Regions from separate parts of the Homo sapiens genome. Here regions 1, 3, 4 and 5 are each linked to region 2. Evidence: fine-mapped expression QTL. A gene starts in region 2. Each other region holds a variant in brackets. All regions are shown on one strand. Distances are between the middles of the regions.

What was found.
Region 1: its variant is fine-mapped to the expression of KAZN in whole blood (INTERVAL, PIP above 0.99).
Region 3: its variant is fine-mapped to the expression of KAZN in whole blood (TOPMed, PIP above 0.99).
Region 4: its variant is fine-mapped to the expression of KAZN in whole blood (INTERVAL, PIP above 0.99).
Region 5: its variant is fine-mapped to the expression of KAZN in whole blood (TOPMed, PIP above 0.99).

What each region holds. Positions count from the first base shown.
Region 1 is chr1:14,880,926-14,885,043 of GRCh38, reverse strand. The region is part of intron 1 of KAZN (kazrin, periplakin interacting protein); the gene reads right to left. Among named protein-coding and RNA genes, the nearest start is that of TMEM51-AS1, 270 kb to the left of the region's middle. RefSeq lists enhancers at 3,047-3,106, 3,117-3,166. The variant C/G (reference allele first, on the strand shown) is at 2,148.
Region 2 is chr1:14,596,202-14,600,319 of GRCh38, reverse strand. KAZN (kazrin, periplakin interacting protein) reads right to left here and starts at 1,635. Exons shown (of 15, transcript NM_201628.3): 1 at 1,097-1,635. The coding sequence starts at 1,322. RefSeq lists a silencer at 809-968.
Region 3 is chr1:14,889,203-14,893,320 of GRCh38, reverse strand. The region is part of intron 1 of KAZN (kazrin, periplakin interacting protein); the gene reads right to left. LOC107985469 (a long non-coding RNA gene) reads left to right here. Exons shown (of 3, transcript XR_001737616.2): 2 at 3,297-3,360. Among named protein-coding and RNA genes, the nearest start is that of TMEM51-AS1, 260 kb to the left of the region's middle. The variant G/A (reference allele first, on the strand shown) is at 2,125.
Region 4 is chr1:14,872,711-14,876,828 of GRCh38, reverse strand. All of the region lies in intron 1 of KAZN (kazrin, periplakin interacting protein), which reads right to left. Among named protein-coding and RNA genes, the nearest start is that of KAZN, 280 kb to the right of the region's middle. The variant TCCAG/G (reference allele first, on the strand shown) is at 2,355.
Region 5 is chr1:14,866,872-14,870,989 of GRCh38, reverse strand. The region is part of intron 1 of KAZN (kazrin, periplakin interacting protein); the gene reads right to left. Among named protein-coding and RNA genes, the nearest start is that of KAZN, 270 kb to the right of the region's middle. RefSeq lists an enhancer at 2,385-2,885. The variant C/T (reference allele first, on the strand shown) is at 2,074.

The DNA of each region.
Region 1 (4,118 bases), 280 kb before region 2:
CATTTTCCCGTGAACAATAGTGTCCTCCTTTCCCTGGTGGACTCCCTCGGTGAGCACAGCATTACGATACGTGTTCCGTGATGCTCGATCTCTGCCAGGGTCTAAGGTCCCCTCTGCTCCCCGCCTGTTGGCAGGCCTCTTCCTCCGCCATCGCTGTCGCTGAGAAATGTATTTCTTCTTTGATGGCTCTGAGATAACAACACTTCCTGCTCAGTTATGAAAAACTGTGTGGGGGAAGGCGAGAGGATGGGCCAGCCTCTGGCTATTCACAGTGTGATCCCCAGACCAGCAGCATGGGTCTTACCTGGGACTTGCTAGCAAGGCAGAATCCCAGATCCCACGTCAGAGCTACTGAATCAGAATTGATTTGCATTAAAATTAACAAGCTCCTCATGTGATTTCCATGCACATGAAGTTTGAGAAGCTCTGCTCTAAACGACCTTCGAAAATGCACCCAGCCCTGGACTTCTAAGACTCTAGCAATGAACGTCCTTAATATGGAGAACTTAAGAGTACATATATTCACACCAAAGCCACACAACCTATGCTTCTGTTATATGCATAGTCTTAAACACTGATTTTATTCTTTAATTCAGTGGCACGGTAGAAAATGATGTTTTTGGTGTCAATGTCCTTTGAACTTCTTTTTTCTTGAGATGGAGTCTCGCTCTGTTGCCAGGCTGGAGTGCAGTGGTGTGATCTGGGTTCACTGCAACCTCTGCCTCCCGGGTTCAAGCGATTCTCCTGCCTCAGCCTCCCGAGTAGCTGGGACTACAGGTGCCCGCCACCACACCCAGCTAATTTTTGTATTTTTAGTAGAGACGGGGTTCCACCATGTTGGCCAGGATGGTCTCGATCACCCGGCCTCGTGACCCACCCGCCTCGGCCTCCCAAAGTGCTGGGATTACAGGTGTGAGCCCCCGCGCCCGGCCTGAACTTCTTATTTATAGGCTGTGAGACCCTAGATGAGTGATGTAGTTTCTCTCAGCCTCAGTTTCTTCATCTGTGAAATGGGGAAAATATTGTCTCCCTTACTGGGATTTTGTGGGCACCTAAGAAGACACATACAGATATAAGGACCCCATTCCTGTACCCTATTCTTTCTTGCCTGCCTCTCTCTTCTGTAAAACAGACTGAGGCTGGGAGACCTAAAGGATACAATAGAGCTTCCTATCCCAAACCGTAAGGGGTGTTTGATGATTTAAAGAAAACAAGAGATTCCCAAGTAGGTAACATTCAAATAAGTGGCATGCAAGTTTCAGATTATAGTTCAGGGTTAAGGCAAAGGTAGGCCCCCTGTCTGATTCTTGCCTGGAAGGTCTTGCCTGTGTCCATGTGATGGGGATGGGCTGGCTTTGATAGGGAGGGAGAGCCCTTGAATCTCTTGAAATTAGATCCAATATTGTGTGCAGGTACATTATTCTAATAAGTTCTGCTTGATTTGATTGGGTAGGCGGGAGGTGAGGGATGATGGAGGATGGGAGGAGCGTGTGAAGATAATGCTCCCTTTGGCTGTGACCCAGGGTCTCACCTTTGAAAAAGGTGGGACAGAGGCCACCACTTCCATCCAGTCCTAAGAAAGCCTGCACCCTGCAACAGAAGAGCTCAAGAACCGCTTTTCTTTCTTTCTTTCTTTCTTTCTTTCTTTCTTTCTTTCTTTCTTTCTTTCTTTCTTTCTTTCTTTCTTTTCTTTCTTTCTTTCTCTCTCTCTCTCTCTCTCTCTCTTTCTTTCTTTCTTTCTTTCTTTTGAGATGGAGTTTCGCTTTTCTTGCCCAGGCTGGAGGGCAATGGAGTGATCTTGGCTCACCGCAACCTCCGCCTCCTGGGTTCAAGTGATTCTCCTGCCTCAGCCTCCTGAGTAACTGGGATTACAGGCATGTGCCATCACGCCCAGCTAATTTTGTATTTTTAGTAGAGATGGGGTTTCTCCATGTTGGTCAGGCTGGTCTCGAACTCCCGACCTCAGGTGATCCACCCACCTCAGCCTCCCAAAGTGCTGGGATTACAGGTATGAGCCACCGTGCCCGGCCAAGAACCACTTTTTGAGTTACCCATGAGTGGTTAAGGAGCAGCTCTGGAGAGAGATGTCTGAATTTGACTTCTAGCTCCCTATTTATTCCTCAAATGAACTTTGACAAATCTCTTCA[C/G]CTTTCCACACCTTGGTGTCCTCATCTGTCTAAGGAGGATGATGTCAGTCCCTACTTTACAGGGGTTATTATGAGACTTAAATGAAATAATCCATGGAAAGGTCTTAGAACAGCATCTGGAAGTTTCTAGATGCTCCATAAATGCCAATGAACTTTTAAAACTGTGCTATAATTGCTTTTAGTTTTGCAAGCATTCCGTCTAGCCCTCCACGTGCAGGGAGAAGAAGGGAGGAGCTGTAAGTGATGCTTTAACCTTCCCTTGGTTCCTCAGAGCCAGCACTTCCCTTAGCACTGATTCTTTCACTCCAGCATCTGAAGATCTGGACTGATGGGAAATACCAGGTCTATAACAGAAGCCCTCCTTTATCAAAACCAACCATATGCCTGACCTCGAGCAGGGTGATTTCCACGCATCATTTCACAGCCCCCAAATGGACCAGTCCCCCTACTACAGACAAGGAAACCGAGGCCAAGAGAGATTAAACAACTTGCCCCAGGTGAGAAGCTAACACATGGAAGAGTCTTTAGGGCTGAAGCTTCAATGTTACTGCCGCTGAGTCATTTAAAATAGTCCTGGCTAAAGCATATCTAGCAAAACTTCAGCTTCTTCTAGGAGGGAAAAAAGTTTGTTTGGAATCTCTGAAGTTTAGCTGAGTGCATGCTGAGCTCACGCTCTAACAACCCTGAATTTGCATGAGATAACAACACTTCCTGTTCAGTTATGAAAAACTGTAGGGCAAGGCGAGAGGATGAGCCAGTCTCTGGCTACTCACAGTGTGATCCCCAGACCAGCAGCATGGGTCTTACCTGGGACTCGCTAGCAAGGCAGAATCCCAGGTCCCACGCCAGAGCTACTGAATCAGAATTCAGTAGCCCTAAGGACTCAACAGGTATTTACAGAGTACCAGCTTCAGAGGCAGCTTAGAGTGGACCTGAGAGACACACAGGAGGAGTAGAGAACAGGCCTTTCCCCGGAGGAGCTTACAGTGAGTTCAGAAGAGAAGAGAAAGCTGCCACCACCATAGCCAGCAGCACCTACATTTGTGAATCCAAATCTCATTTAAACAACCATACACAGAAAATAGTAATCTTATCCCCAGTATAAGGATGCAGAAACAAGTTCAGAGGGAGCAAATCGATTCAAAATGGTTCATATGAGGTCTTCTGGCTGGGAAGTGGTCGAGCAGAAACTTGATTCCAGGTGATTTGACACCAGAACCTGTACCTGAACCCACCATGTGGTGCCCTGAAATAATCTCAGACATGAGACTGTAAGTTCCTAGAGGCAGGGACCAGCTCTGCTTGGCTCACCACTGTATTCCCAGGGCTGAGGACAGTGCCTAGCACATAATCAGTATTCTATAAACACTTGCGGATGAAGAGATACATGAACAAATGGAAGATTCGGCAAGATGGCAGACAGTTCCAATGGTACGGGTCACAGAAAGTTTATTTCCTGCCCTCTAGTCCTTCTTGTGCCTTAGTAGCCTCAAATGATTTCCACTTCTCTTCCTCACCCCACCAGGCTGGCATTTCACATGCCAATGGCATTTGTTACTGCCTGTTTCTGCACCTACCAGTTTTGACAAGGGTTGGGAAGTGGTTTGCTGGGACATTATCTGACCTGTCACCCTGCTGGATTTTCTGGTCCAACTGGAAACACCCTGCTTATCATGCGAGAATTTACTTTCAGGGGTGTTCAGCCTAACCTGACTGAGCACAATCTGTGGAGCACTGGCCATGAGTAACTCCAGGAACACAGCTTTGCTGGATATTGGGAAAGAGCAATTTGGCTGTGAGCTCAGTTACCGCATGCTCCAAGAATGGATCCTGTGCCCACAGCACTTCACAGAGGCCTCAGGAGCACAAGGCATGCTGGACTGTCATTCGTTTTCTTACCTCATTGTTTTCCCCATGTTAACTGGAGGCTATTCACCGGCAAAGAGTTATCTTGCTGCTGCTCAACCCTCA
Region 2 (4,118 bases):
AGCTCTTGAAATGACAACAGAACCAGAAAATCATTTTGAGCCACTGAGCAATTGGTACCTTGCACTTCAAGTGACATATTTAGACAAGTGGACCTCATGGACTGGAGATTTGTTTCTGTCCTGTTCTGGATTTCAGCAGTTTAATTTGCAATTCAAATGATATTAATAACCAGTGATACTGTTTCTTAAAGGGCAATTAGGCAAAAAGAAAAAAAAAATCCCCCAAAGCCTGCTTACCCTTTTACTTTCTAAGTCACAGAAACCAAACAGTACATTTTAGGGAATGCCCCATCCGCCTTTATGTCTTGCAGGGGGTTTCAGAGCTTAATCTCTGTCAATGTGAACACAAACCAACTGTCTTTTTCTTCCTCTTCTCTAAACCGCAGAGTCCCTTCAAACGGGCTCCCTGCAGCCCACCACCCTAAGCCTTCATTTCTCTACCGCTCAACCTTTGAGGTCTACAGTATCCCCCTGGAAAGTGCTCTCGGTGTTTATATTTGCGGAAATTTAAACTCCCTGCTGAGCTGAGCATCTACTGTTGCATCTATAGATTCCAATGCCTGAGAGACCTCAAATGAGAAGAAAATAAAGTCCAGATGCAACTGAGCCAAGGGATTTGGCATCCGCGGAGAAAAGTGCACAGCAGTGCAATCCTCTATCCCAACCACGGCGGCAGAGCCCGGAGCTCTCTCTGGGAAGGAGCCTAAGGAAGTGGGGGGAACTGTGCCATTCACCCCTGCGGGGGGTGGGGAAAAGGCCCCGGCATGAAAAGTTTGCACGGAGCTAGGGGGCTGGTGCCACGGAAAGGGCACTTTCTGATGCCGGAAGGGACCCGCCGGCTGCGCCTCGCTCAGGCTGGCCGGGGCCGGTGTGACCGTGTGACCCCGTGCACACTGCGCTCGGGTTTTCGTGAATGACAGCAGCCTGCAACTCCCAGCCGGAGAGCAGCGGTGGCCACCGCCGGGCGGAAAGGGTTACAAGCCAGAATGCAAAGCGATTTCGCCCCGGGTGTGGGGGACCCCGGGTCCCCGGCCACCTCCGAGGCCGGGCGTGCTCTGCTCGCCTTCCTCCGCCCTGGGCGCCGGGGCGATCCTACCTTGCGCTCCAAGCTGGGGGTTCTCCATGTTCGTCGCCGCCGAGTCCCCCGCCGCCGAGGCGCTGGCCGCGGCTCCCGGGCCCGGGCCGGGGCCGCCGCCGCCGCTCAGTTCCGCCAGTCTCCGGTTGGTGGCCGTGAGTTCGGCTCGCAGGTTGGTCACCTCCTGGCTGGCCGACTGGACCGCCCCATCGATGCGGAGCGCGAGCTGCTTATTGTCTTCCATCATGCTCAGGATTTTGGCCTGGGGGCGAGAGAGGTGACAAAGAGCTGCATGATGCGCGGGGGGCGCGCGGCCGGGCACCCCCGGCTCTACCTGTTGTGTCCTCCGCGGCCCGGCTTCGCCCGCGCCCCGACCCCCAGGCACCGGCAGCGCCGGTTCCTCCGGCACAGGAATGACAGCGGCGCCTCCAGCCCTAGCCGCGGCGGTGGCGAGGCGGCGGGGGGAGGAGGCGGAGGAGAAAAAAGAGGAGGAGAAGGAGGAGGAGGAGCAGCGATCGCCGAGACCCCGGCGGGCGGGCGCCGAGAGCTGCTCCAAGAAGGACACCGCGCGCCACCAGGCACTCTTTAAATGGAGCCTACCATTCGCCGCCGGCTCGGGAGGGGGTCTCGGTCGGAGGCTGGGGGCACCCTTGGCCTCCCGCGCCCCCGTACTTCGGAGACACACCCCCCGGGGGGGCGGAGGCGGCGGACGGCAGTCGGGAGGGGGCCAAGGTGGCGCCCCTGGCGAGGGGCAGGGGTCGCCTGGACCGAGGCCGGCCCTCTGTCCCCTCCCTTGAGCGGTGGGGCAGCCCCCGCCCTGGAGAACTGGTGCCCCGAGCCGTGCTAAGGTTGGGGAGGTGCTGGGTGCTCGGAAGAGAGGGTGCTTGGAAAGGGGGCCTCAGAGGGGAGCCGGGGTGGATCTCCATGGAAGGGAGACGCTTGCGCCAGCTCAGGAGTGGAGTTCGTGCTCCACCGGTTCCTTAAACTGCGAGTACGAAATCCCCAGAGGGGAGCTGAGCTGGTGCCCCGCGTGCCTCTCACTCTCCACCCCCCACCCGCAGGCCAGACCTGCGCTGCCCACCCCAGGAGGGAGCGCCTATCTTCCTCGGCGTGGGCCGCTGGTGCTCCCGCCTCTCCACAGCCCTAGCCCTGTGTGTGCATCCAGGTGGAGGAGCAGCCTTAGCCAGCTCCTAAGCTTCTTAGCCGGGCTGAATATTGGCGGGGACAGAGATGAGGTTGAGAGATAAGAAGGAAGGCGTCGATGGGGCTTCTTCCCTTTCTTCTACTGGGAGCAGAAGAGTTGAGCCCTGCTGCCTCAGTTTACCCATCCCCTCTTCACAGAAGAACTGAGGTAACCTGACGTTGATATGCCCTCTCCAGCTCCTCTTTCTCTCCCAGACCACAGGCTTTGCATTTTTCACTGGGGCCCTGGATTCCAGCCACCAGACCTTGTTACCATAGCAAACTTCATTCCATGCAAATAGGACAATTTAAAACAGCCAGCAACCCTCTGGTCAACAGGGCGCCATCATTCCAGCTCAGTCAACCTCCGGAGAGCAGCAAAGAGCAGATTGCAGAAGCCAGTGGGGTGCTGCGAGGAAAAATGAGGCTGCCCACCCTTCAGGTTCTTACAGGAAGCCCATAAGAACCAAGCAAAAACTGCGTGTAGAGTGCTTTTATATGCATTCTTATCTCTTGTGAGTGAGGATTATTATTCCCATTTTAGGGATAAGGAAACTGAGGCTCTGCATAGGGTTAAGCAATTTACTTAAGGGGCCCGCAGAAACCAGGTGACAGCGGGACTGGAAGAAAGTAATCATCTGATTGCAAGTTCCTCCTGCTGCGCCTTCAGGAGGCCTTGGATGATAGATTTCTCCCCCCTTTTCTGTGGAACCATAAAAACAGTCTTGCTCCATTCCCCTGTGACCACTAACAAGCTTTTGCAAGAGGGCAGGATTTGATGGTGGAGCATGTGGCAGGAAGACACAATTCTTCACTCTGTCCGCTCTGCTCAGCTAATGGGTCAGTTCGGGGATCGAACCCTGACCTTAACCTCATTAACACAAGTTCTTACCAACTGGACCAACCAAGGCACTTAGAACTGCTTAGTGTATCTGCAAACCAGGATTCAGTTCTTTGCAGTCTTTCAGTTACGTTATGGGGAGAGCATCAAAACTACAGAGCTGTGTGGGTCTTGAAAAGGGGGATGCCGTGGTGCAGCCATTGTGGAAAACATATTAGCAGTTCCTTGAACAGTTAAACATAGGATTACCATACGACCCAGCAAATCCACTCCTAGGTATATGTCCAAAACAAATATCCAAACAAAAATTTGTACATGAATGTTCATAGCAGCACTGTTCATTAGTAGCCAGAAGGCAGAAATAACCCAAATGTCCATCAACAGATGATTGGATGAACAAATTGCAGTATGCAATGGAATATTACTCAGCCGTGAAGAGTACTGATACATGCTACTACTACGTGGATGAAGCTCCAAAACATTATGTTAGTTGAAAGAAGCCCGACATAGAAGGTCACATATTATACGATTCAATTTATATGAAATATCCAGAATAAATAAATCCATGAAACAGGAAGCAGATTGGTGTTTGTCAGGGGCTGTGGGGAGGGAAGAATGAGAAGTAACTGCTTAATAGGTGCCGGGTGTTACTTTGTGCTGACTGATGAAAATGTTTTAGAACTAGACAGAGGTGGTGGTGGCACAACACGGTGAATGTACTAAGTGCCATTGAATTGTTCACTTTAAAGGGCTTAATTTCATGTTATGTAAATTTTACCTCAATCAAAAAGTCATATATGCAAATACACAAATAGAGAGGATGGGAATGTTTTGGAACTAGGGCTTCTGAGCAAACAGTTAAGAGTAGCTCTATTTAGAGGGCCGTGTGTGTGTGTGTGTGTGTGTGTGTGTGCGCACACGTGTGCGTGCACTCACACCTCTGGTATAGCACTCAGCAGAAGAAACAGTAATTTATCTGTTTATATGTCTCTCTCCCACTTCACTGGGAACTTGTGGGTG
Region 3 (4,118 bases), 290 kb before region 2:
GATCTCTGCTCACTGAAACCTCTGCCTCCTGGGCTCCAGAGATTCTTCTGCCTCAGCCTCCCAAGTGGCTGGGATTACAGGCACGAGCCACCACGCCCAGCTACATTTCGCATTTTTAGTAGAGACAGGGTTTCACCATGTTGGTCTGGTTGGTCTCGAACTCCTGACCTCATGATCCACCTGCCTCGGCCTCCCAAAGTGCTGGGATTACAGGCATGAGCCACCACACTGGCCTCTATTTTCCTTTTAAAAATGATTATTTGACTTCCTCCTGTAGATCATCAGCCTTATGACAGTAGGGACCAGTCTAATCAGTCTAATTCTGTTCACTCTATCCTAGCACCTAGAATTGTGCCTGCTACGTAGTAGGTGCTTGTAAATATTTGTGGAGGACTGCATGAATGAGGAATAATCTTAGGAGACTGGTCCTTCCTCTGTCCATTCCTTTTTTCCTTTCTTCTGGAAGCTTTTGTGTGTGTGTGTGTAGGTATTGGAGATACAAGATGAGTGGGCTGGTTTGCCTGGGCCCAGGCCACCGGAGCCTGCAGGAGGCCCCCACAGCCCCGTGGCACAAGTGTCCTGGGCTCACCTGCCCAAGTCTGAGGACATGAACACACACCCCTATGAACCCTGAGCCATGGGCAGGGGTGGTGGGCAGTGATGCAGACAGAGGTCATTCGAAAGCTTGCTCTGGAGACACCTTCTGGGGTGTCTCTGCAACCTTCTAGCACTTTCCCTTCCACTCTGTCCTTTGCAGACCTTGTAGAAAAACCTGTGGGGTGGGCTCCCATGGGCTGTCAGGGGAGGGAGAAGCTCCATGGTGGTGTCTGGGGGGAAACAAGCCTGAGATTACAGGCCTTCAGATGATCCAGGGATTGTAGGATACAGAGAGAAAGAGAGACAGCAGGGGGGAGGGGGAAAAAGGAGAGAGAGAGGGAAAAAGAGAGAGAGATGCCTCTGAAAGACAGATGCCTCTCTTCCCATAATGAAGGCACAGGAGGGCATCTTGGGACCTGGGTCATCAGAGATGGCTGGAGGCGAGCCCCGGGGCAGGGACTGAACTCTCTTCTGCCAGGAGTGTTTTCTTCCTGGAGTTCTGAGAGAATTTAGTGTTTGTGGCAGGTGCTGGGCTGGGCTCCCTAGAGACCTTGAGACTCCATTTGGGCCAGGAATGGGAGCACAGATGACGGCAGGGTCACCATCCCATCTGGGCTCTGCCTGCTGCCTTGAGGAGGCATTTACTTCAGGGGTCTGCACCACACCAGAGGCCAGAGGCAGGAGGTAGGGACGGGGGCATGTTGAACTTTCCTGACACCTTCCAGTAGCTTCTGGGTCATAGCAACAGGCAGGGCCAGATGTAAGACTCCCTGACACCAAGAAGCCTCACATAATCAGAGCCGACTAACGGAGGCTCATGGACACGTCTTACTGCCCCATCCCACCCCCAACCATGGAAATAACTTCAGAGATTTCTTTTTCATTTTAGAAGAAATAGCTATTCATTGCATAAAATTCAAACAAGTTGGAGAAAGTACAAAGAAAAAAAAAGTATAAATCACCTGTAAAATCCCACTACCCCCGTTAATACTTTTTTGGCTTTTCTTCTCTCCTAAAGAAACATAATGACATAGAATTTTCCAGAAATCAGCATGACACAGGCTAACTTGCTTTTAGAAAAAACAATTCAACGGTATTCCATGGACATTTTCCCATGTAAATAAATACAGTGTTAAAGCAGTGGTCTTTAACTGCTTTAGCCCAGCACACACATGGGAAGTGCTGGGAAGCTTGTTAAAATACAGATTCCTTACTACTCAGCCATAAAAAGGAAAGTTAATGGCATTCGCAGCAACCTGGATGGGATTGGAGACTATTATTCTAAGTGAAGTAACTCAGGAATGGAAACCCAAACATTGTATGTTCTCACTCATAAGTGGGAGCTAAGCTATGAGGACGCAAAGGCATAAGAATGATACAATGGACTCTGGGGACTCAGGGTAAAGGGTGGGAAGGGGGTGAGGGATAAAAGACTACAAATTGGGTTCAGCGTATACTGCTATGGTGATGGGTGCACCAAAATCTCACAAATCACCACTAAAGAACGTACTCATGTAACCAGACACC[G/A]CCCGTTCCCCAAAAACCTATGGAAACAATAAATTTTTAGAAATACAGATTCCTGCCAGGCGCGGTGGCTCACACCTGTAATCCCAGCACTTTGGGAGGCCGAGGCGGGTGGATCACGAGGTCAGGAGATCGAGACCATCCTGGCTAACACGGTGAAACTCCATCTCTACTAAAAATACAAAAAAGTTAGCCGGGCGTGGTGACGGGTGCCTGTAGTCCCAGCTACTCTGGAGGCTGAGGCAGGAGAATGGCGTGAACCCGGGAGGCAGAGCTTGCAGTGAGCTGAGATCCGGCTACTGCACTCCAGCCTGGGCGACAGAGCGAGACTGCTTCAAAAAAAAAAAAAAAAAAAAAAAGTCCAGATTCCTGGCTGGGCACAGTGGCTCATACCTGTAATCCCAGCACTTTGGGAGGCTAAGGTGGGAGGATTACTTGAGCGTAGGAGTTTGAGACCTGCCTGGGCAACACGGCAAGACCCCAGCTCTAGATTAAAAAAAAATACAGATCTTTGGGTCCCATTCTGAGATTCATCAGTGGATCCGCCGTGGGGCCCGGAAGTCTGTATACTGAGAAAGCCCACAAGAGGACTCTGATTCACGCCCGTCATTCAGAATCCTGATCTATGGCCTGCCTTTAAAAATAACCTTCTCTATCTTTTTAAAAGGCGGGCAGAAAGGAAAAAAAAAAGATTTAAATTTGCTATCAGGAATTTTAAAAATGTTCAGCTTTTAGGGGATGTCACAGGTTTGACAGATTCAGTTTCTTTGTCCTATACTTTTTGCAGCGGGACGATGTCCCACTGGTGGGGACTGGTGCCCGGGAGATTCTGGGTCTGCGTGCCATTCTCGGGCAGTGGAGAGATTTCCCATCAGGAAAATGGGCTTTGCACACAGCTGAGAAACCTCTCCCCAGGGGCAATCCAGAAAGAGCTTTTTGTTCAATCTTCCATTAAAGAGAAATTTCAATTGCCTTGACCAGCCAGAGCATTCCAGCTGACCAGGCTTGACTTGCTTACCCAAAACCCAAACTCGCAGAGCAGGGAAGGGAAAGGCGACTGTTCAGCAAGTTCTGGGAAGCCCCCTCAGGGTCCCTGTGGTAAGCTTCCCGAATCATCTCCAACTGCATTCTGACCTGGGTCTAGGCTTCTCCCTAACTCTTCCTGTGTTCTGCAGGTTGACGACATAAAAAGCCCATTGTAACTCTTCAAGAGGCTGATGTTTGGCTCGAGCGTACGAGGTACTTCTTTTCACTGATGATACTACCCGACACAGTCTGCTAGTTGCCATATTTTGTCATGTAAGACAGGCTTTTTCTGCAAAGGGCCAGGAAGTAAATATTTTCAATGGTCTCTGTCCCAACTGCTCATAAATACATGGGCAAGGCTGTGATCCAGTAACATTTTATTTATGGACACTGCAGTTTGAATTTTGTATAAATTTCACATCGTGAAACATTCTTCTGATTTTTTTCAACCATTTAAAAGTGTACAAACATTCTTGGTTGGTGGGCTGGATTTGGCCTGTGGGCTGTAGTTTGCCAAGAGAAAGCTGGACAGGAATTAAGGAAGGAAGGGTAGGCAGGGGCAGACTTTTCCAGAATTAGAGCTGTACCCCAAGGGGGAATTCTGTCCTAGGAGACAGTGAGTGCTAAGTACACTCTGGACAAGCACCAGACACAGAAGCTGCCTCAGTTTGTGCTCCCCCTGCAAAGCAGAGCCTGAGACAAGGATTTGGGTACAAGGAGTTTCACTCAATATTATATTTCCAAGATGCACCCATGCTTTATATGGCTATAGTGCATCCATTTTACTGCTTTATACTTTCCATTAGGTGACTATATTAGTATATATTTATAATTCCTAGGTCTTTTTGTTCTCTTATTTGTTAATAATTATAAACTCCAAGCCCATTGTGGTAGATTGCTATTTCTCAGAGATATTTTCTGCTCCTTCCTGGGGGACAATAATACTTTTCTCCCATCAATGGCAGATGTGG
Region 4 (4,118 bases), 280 kb before region 2:
AAATCTAGACATGCCTATCTACAAAAAGGTCTGGAGGGAGAATAATAACAGCTAACATTTATTAGCTCTGTGTGACAGGCATCACTTTAAGTGTTTTACGTAGATTACTCATGGATCCTCAAAAGCATACCAATTTTTGGTACTATCATTAGCATCATTATCCTATTTTAGAGATGGGCAGACTAATGTAAACAGAGAAGGTGGGAAGCATACTCAAGGTCACAGAGCTGGTAAGGGGCAGAGTGAGACTTGAATCCAGGCAGTCCAGCTCCAGACCCCACTCCCTCCACTTAACTACTACACAACGCTGTGTCTGCTTCCCCTGCAAAGACCTGCACAGGAGTGATGGTCCTAAACCCAGGTTCCTACCTGCAATTTCAAGGTGTGTCCTCCCAAGCATCTGTTCTTTGCTCTGTTGCCAAAGGCATGTTTAATCACCTGCCTAGAGTTCCTTTCCTGGCTTGCATAATAATGAGCCCACAGCAGCTACTATCGCTAATGTCATTCTGGCTGCTGGCTGCATTTGCGCATGTAATAAACGCAGCTACCACAAGATTGGAAATTGGACAGGTGACAACAGAGGCTGTGATTGTGCAGATCAGATTGAGGACAGGGAACTGATAACACTGACAATTCCATAAAGCCATCACCTCATCTATTGTTTCTCACCTCCGCGGCAAGCCTCTGAGGTGCCCTAATGAGGTAAGATCCTAACATCTGTTAAGATCACAGTCCCACTTGGCTTGTCTGGGCTTTCTTCTTCCTCCTTGCCTCAGTCAAACAACTGCTTTTAATCTCTCCATTCAGAGGAGCGGCTCACTCTCACTTCACTGTCATCACACAGAGCTTGAAGCAGGGGGTGTCAACTGTGAAAGTTTGCAGGGCAACACATCTTCCCGAGCATCTCTGTTGATGTGGCAGTCATGCCTGGGCTGAAATCTACCCCCTTCCAGGAAAGCAGGAAATTCCCGAGGTCACACTTCAGATTGATCTCAGAAAACCTCTTTCTTGATAGTGAAGGCAACAGGCAGTGGTGTACTGGCAAGTGTTTAACAATCAACTGTGGAGGGTTGGGCGAAGGAGCCCTGATTTGTAGTCATTGCCAGTTTCCATGGTGTACGTACTCTCATCATCAATTTTAAGCCACCAGTATGAGGCTTATAACATTCCTGAAAATGTAACTATTGGCTCTCAGGAGCCTGGAGCAGACCCCAGCACATCCTGCGTAGGAAGCCTGGTCTGTGCCTCATGCCTCCTAAGAATCCAGTGATTTTCACTATTAGGAGAAGGAAGAAATGGCTTCATTGAAAATAGTTTTTTTTTCTTTTTTCTTTTTTTTTTTTTTTAATAAATTAAGGACAATGCAAGGCAGGGAAGACAAGAGTTCAGCTTCCATGCTCACCCAATAAATGATAACAACAACCAAATAAACCCATAAAAAGATAAATAACATTTACATAAAATGTCTTACAATTTTTTTTTTTTTTTTTTTTTTTTGAGACAGAGTTTCACTCTTGTTGCCCAGGATGGAGTGCAATGGCATGATCTCGGCCCACTGCAACCTCTGCCTCCCGGGTTCAAGTGATTCTCCTGCCTCAGCCTCCTGAGTAGCCGGGATTACAGGCATGCACCATCATGCCGGGATAATTTTGTATTTTTAGTAGAGACGGGGTTTCTCCATGTTGGTCAGGCTGGTCTTGAACTCCCAATCTCAGGTGATCTGCTTGCCTCAGCCTCCCAAAGTGCTGGGATTACAGGTGTGAGCCACCGCACCTGGCCACAAATTTACAGATATATCTGAGACCTTTCCTCATTTGGCTTTAACATGGAGGAATCTCCAGGGACCCCCACTTGCAGAGGTAGGTGGCTGCGCAAATCTGCTCTTCCAGAAAGGAAGGGAGATTTGGCAAAGCATCAGTTTGGCAAATGGAAATACAAAACCAAGTAAGTCTAGGATCCCAGAGTTAGTTTTTTTTCCTCTCATTTTCTTCCTTTCCTTTCCCTTCTCAAACCTTAAAAGGGGAAACATTCGACCAAGAGCATTATGGGTAATCCAGAGAAGGATAATCAAACCAGAAGATGTCAAGATTCTCATCTTATAGCAAACACAGGTCACACCAGGATTTCTGGGCTGGATCCAAAAAGTTGGGTGAATGGAGAAGGAGATTGGTTTTGACAGCTTTTGGTTCTGGCACACGGAGTGTCAGGCAACAGTTGCTTAATTGCTGTCACAGGTGACAAGATGGTGCAGTTACCTGCAGTAGTTAAGTTAGCTGCAGTAGTTAAGTTAGCCTTCCATCCATCTGTCCATCCATCCATCCATCCATCCATCCATCCATCCATCCATCCATCCA[TCCAG/G]TCAGCCAGCTAGCTAGCGATTCATGCCACCATTCCTCTGAAACAACTCAAGGTCACCAATGACATTATTAAATCCAGTGGTCACCTTTCCAGCCCCTCTTACTTAATCTGTCAGCAGCATCTAACAGTTGAACACTCTCTTCCGGACACATGTCACTTCTCTACTGGTTTCTTCCTACCTCACCAGCTGTTCCTTTTCAGTAGCCTTTGTTGGATCCTCTTCCCCCTTCCGACCTCCAAATGTTGGAGGACTCCAGAGCTCAATCCTTGGATTCTCTATCTGTACTCACTTGTCTGGTATCGTGGCTTTAAATATCATCTGTATATGCTGATGATTCCCAAATGGATATGACCAGCCCTGTCCTCTCCCTTGAAATTTGGACAGTCAACTCTCAGATGATTAATAGACATCTCTAACCTAGCATACTCCAAACTGAGCTCCTGATTTCCTCCTGGCCCACCCCCTCTAAACTCGCTCCTGCCCCTGTCTTCTCTATTTCAAGAAATGACAAGTGCTTTCCTTCCAGTTACTCAAGGGTGCATCTCTGGAATCATTCTGGACTTCTCCTTTTTCTCCTACCCACCACATCCACCACGTCAGTTCTGCTGGCTCTACCTTTGAACTAGATACTGAATCTCGCCACTTTGCCCCACTTTGCACTGCTCTCTCCCTGGTCCCAGCCACCACAAACTCATGCCTAGATGATTGCAGTAGCTTCCTTATTTGTCTCCGGCACCTGCCTTTCCTCCCTAGAGTCTATTTTCAACACAACATAAATATATGTCAGATCCAATCCCTCCTCTTCTCAAAGCCCACCACTGGCTTCTCATTTCACTGAGAGGAAAGCAAAGTCTTCCAAAAGCCTGAAAGGCCCCTGGCTCCCTCTGACCTCCTCTCCTTTTACATTTCCTCTCCTCCCACACTCTGGTTTAGCCATGCTAGCCTTCTTCTGTTCTCTCTGCTTTTCCCTCAGATCTCTGCATAGCTCACTTCCTCCCTTCCCTCAAGGCTTTCTCAAATGCTGCTTTACCAAAGAGACCACCCTATGTGAAACAGCAGCCCCATTATTCTGCATCCCTCTTCCCCACTTTATTTTCCTTCATAGTGCTTACTGCTACTAGAAATTCTTTATGCTATTTGTTTTCTTCTTGAACATCTGACTCTCCCCTTTAGAATACAGTCTTTCTGAAAGCAGGAGCTTTGTCTGTGTTATTATTCTATCCCTAACTACTTGAATAATGCCTAGTGCATAGCAGGTGACAGAAGGAATGAATGGATGAATCCATCCACCCATCCATTCATCTATCTGTCCATCCATCCATCCTTCCATCCATCCATCCATCCACCCATCCATTCATCTATCTGTCCATCCATCCATCCTTCCATCCATCCATCCATCCACCCATCCATCCATCCACCCACCGATTCATCTATCTATCCACCCACCCATCCATCCATCCATCCATCCATGTATCCTTCTATATGTTCTTCTACTCATCTTTCCATCCATCCATCCATCCATCCATCCATCTATCCATCCATCCATCCATCCACCCAACCATCCATTTATCCATATATCCATTCACCCATCCATCCACCCATCTATTCATCTATGTATCCGTCTGTACATCCATCCATTTGTCCTTCCACCCATCCATCTGTACGTCCATCCATCCATCCACCTATCCATTCATCTGTCCACTTGTCCATCCATCCATCGAACCATCCATCCATGCAATAATTTCTTACTGGGATTCTG
Region 5 (4,118 bases), 270 kb before region 2:
TCCTCATTCTCCAGATATCAGACAAGCCTTCTGGGTTATTGTGTGACCCCAGGCAGGTGTGGAGGCGGCCATTCATATGATGAGTCTTAATTTCTTATCATTCTGGTAGGGTTGGGCCTGGTGAGATTTCTTGCACACTTGGTTGTGGAGTAAGATTCATATATGTAATAATGAGAACAGTGTGGCCACAGTGACACATAGTGCCACACAACCTTCACAACAAATGCCCCCGATTGAGAGCTGACCATGGGCCATTAATTGTGCCAGATGTGAAGCTCCTCATCTCATGAAGCATCACAGCAGCTCATGAGGGAGTCACGGTCGTGAACCCCATTTAACAGATGAGGAAAACCGGGCCTGGGGGCTCACACCTGTAATCCCAGCACTTTGGGAAGCCAAGGTGGGCAGATCACTTGAGGTCAGGAGTTTGAGAGTAGCCTGGCCAACATGGAGAAACCGCGTCTCTACTAAAAATACAAAAATTAGCCAGTGTGGTAGTGCATGCCTGTAATCCCAGCTACTTGGAGGCTGAGGTGGGAGAATCACTCGTACCCAGGAGGTGGAGGTTGCAATGAGCCAAGATTGTGCCATTGCACTCCAGCCTGGGCGACAGAGCAAAACTCTGTCTCAATACAAACACACAAAAAACAAAAAACAGTTGAGGAAACAGGGCCAGAGAAGTTAAGCCATTTGTTCAAAGTCACACAGCAAGTGAGGAGCAGAGCTGGGACTCACCCTTCACCCTGTCTTAACTCCAAAGCCTGTGGTCTTTTGGTTTTGAGTAGAAGGGTCTGATTTTTCCCAGTATCCAGGCCCTAGACTCCATGTTCAAGGAATCTCCCCAGCAGTCGTCTGAAGGTCAAAGCCAAGGTCAAGGCCAGGCCCAGTGCTCCTGGACAGATACTGGGATTTTCCACAGAGATGAGACCCTGAGTTTTTCATCTCATTGGGGAAAAATCTGGACATTCTACCTTCCATGTGATTTTTCTTACCTCTCTGTCATTTTTCCCCGGATACCTTGGGATTAATGGCAAAGTAATGCCGGGGTGGGTGTTGGGTGGCTTCAGGAAGGAAGGGGCTGAGGGCAGGAGACCGGTACAACCCAGCAGCCACCACATGGAACAAGGCTTTTAATAACACTGGATTTTTCCAGCAGGTCTGTGCGCTAATTAAACCTGCTCCTCGCAGCCACTGCAAAATGAAGGGAGTCTCACCTGAAAGCTTGTAATTTGCCAACACGAAGGAGAACAGAAGCAAGTACTCAAACATTACCCACAACCACTGCTTTGGAATATTGATTAGCAAGAGACGAGGCACATGCCAGCTTTCAACCCCTCGAACCCAATCAGAATCAATATTTCTCTCCTCAGAGTGCAGAGGAGAAGACCCTTTCAATTCCGATCCAGAAAGAGCCCAGGGGCTGTGACATCTGCCAGCCCTACTGTCCTGTTCTGCTTCACTGAAAATGCTAGCATAGGTGAAGATATAAAAATTACAGAACTCATCAAAAGATATTATAAAGCCCCAGCCACACATCCTAATGACTCACAAAATGACTAGTCTCCAGCATGCAGCCTGTAATTAGAGCCTCGCTGTGCAGAATATACAGTCACAGCCCCTGCGTTGAGGCTCCATAAAGAGTCCAGAGTCTGACCCCTGAATTGTGCTCACACAGGGAAGGCAATGAAAGGTCGCGAGCTCACCCTGAGAAGTGAGAAAAAATCCTCAGAACCTGGAAGAGCTTGAGACTGTGCAAAAGGGAAGTGGAGATTTAAAGGAGCAAACTGGAAGGGTCAAGACAGGCAGGAAGGGGATGGTGGAAGCTGGAATACTAAACTTCGATCCCAACCTGCGGCTAGAATAGGATCCAGCTGTCATGGCTTTGGCAAGTCTGCGGTTCTCACTAGGACACATCCCAAGGTGCTAGCAGGAACTAGAGAAGGGGAATCTGGCATCCTGACTAGCATTTTGTGGGTACCCACAATACCACCGGGGCCCCCAAGCTGGAGTGGGGGACACAGATCAACAAGGGAAAAATCACCGAGTAGAACAGATGCACCCCCCCGCCAACCC[C/T]GATTCAGTTCTCTTATCTTGGCCCCATTTCGGATTATTTATTATTATTTTTACTTAGCTATTAAGTTTTTTAGAGTTGGGGTCTCATTCTGTTGTGCAGGCTGGAGTGCAGTGGCATGATCATAGCTCACTGCAGCCTTGAGTTCCTGGGCTCAAGAGATCCCCCCACCCCAGCCTCCCTAGTAGCTGGGACTACAGGCACACGCCACCATGCCTGGCTCCTCTTGGCCCCATTTCTGGAAGGACATGCAGAGATGAAGACAGCTGCAGAGGAGCCTACTAGATTCCCCTCCCCAAACTCAAAGTCTGCCCAGATGTTCTGGGTCTACAAGACTCCAGTTCACCCAGTGGAAAAGTGGTAATGGTTAGACATTCACTTCAAGAAGGGCCCACGGGGAAGTGGTTAAGATTTCAGCCTCTGGAGTCACTAATCTTGGTTTCAAATCCCAGGTCTTGTAACGTGTGGCCCTAGATGAGTTGCTCCAACTCTGAGCCTCAGTTTCCCCATCTATAAAATGGCTCCCATCCCAGGAAAGTGTTAGAAAGCCCACAGCCTGGTACCCTCTAATTGCCCAATAGATGCAATAGCAATTAGTAGTAAAGACAGCCATTGGGTCTAAGAACAGTTCCCCTCCAGTGGCCTCAGACGCAGCCCTGGCTGTGCGTATGTGATGCCATGTGTTTGCAATGCCTGCGTATGCGATGCCTGCGTATGTGATGCGTGCTATTTGATGCCTGCCTATGCGATGCCCGCCTATGCGATGGCTGCGTATGTGATGCCGTGCTATGTGATGCCCGTGTATGCAATGCCTGTGTATGTGATACCGTGCGTATGTGATGCCTGTGTATGCAATGCTGTGCGTATGTGATGCCATGCTATGCGATGCCATGCCTGTGTGATGCCCACGTTTGTGATGCCTGTGTATCCAATGCCTGCATATGCGATGCCTGCCTATGCAATGCTGTGCTTATGTGAGGCTGTGCCTGCCCACTGCTGTCCTCCCTGTAGCCAGGTCATGTCTGTCTCCTCTCCACCTATCCAAGTGCAGTCCACAGCCTTATATACATCACTGGCTCAGCCCAGGAAAGCTGAGGACATAGCCAGGGACAAGCCCCAGACGAGGGGCCATGCCAGCTGACCTGCCTGCTGCCCTTTGCCCCAATGCCTCCATGCCCAGGGTGGGGGGGGGGGTGTCTTCAAAGACACCGAGTAAAGCAGAGACAGAAGTCACAGTCCTAGCAAAAGCACCTGAATAGGATGACTGCTGTTGTCATTAATAACACAAACAGCAGCACCTGACATCAGTCTACGGACAACTACGTGCTCTGTCATTTCATCCTCTCGGCGTCCTTGCGAGATGGAAGCTAGTAGTTTTCCTACTTCACAGAGCTGGAAACAGGCACAGAGAAGTCAAAAAGCCTGTCTTACCTGGAGCCCAGCTGGAGGATGCACCATCCCTGAACCCAACGGTAACTCTATCATCAGCACCATGGCCAGAGTCAGGTCCCGGGGGAATACAATGGTCTTGGGCTTTCTATTTTGGTGCCTGGTCTAAGTCTAGTGCAGTTTTTGTCCTCTGCTTCTCTCTCAGCCCACTCACAGCCTCAGTGCAAAATAAATCTCCCCACTCTCCCCACTCTCGCAGATCTCACAAAACAACAGACCTTCAAGGCAAAAGAGGAGGGAGAGGGGAGCAAAGGACTCCGAGAGGCCTCCACGCTCCATTGATCACAGGGCCCTGAACGTGGCTGCTCCCCTGCACAGGGAGGGCCCTGGCTGGGCCTTGGCCAAGCATTGTAGCAGAGGAGGCCTGGAAAAAACGAGCCCGAACTTGGGATTCAAGAGAAGGGCATTGCAAGGTCAGCAGTCCATCAGGGAGGCAGGGGCGTGGCCAGCCTCACTTAGCATCCTGCTTCTTTTCTGTCTTCTCCAATCCAAATTTATGCCATGACAATAACAGCATTCTCCATTATTGTGTATCTCCACTGATCTCAAGAGGTGTCCATAGACCAGGGTCTCCCCACAGCTCAGGCCAGCACAGATT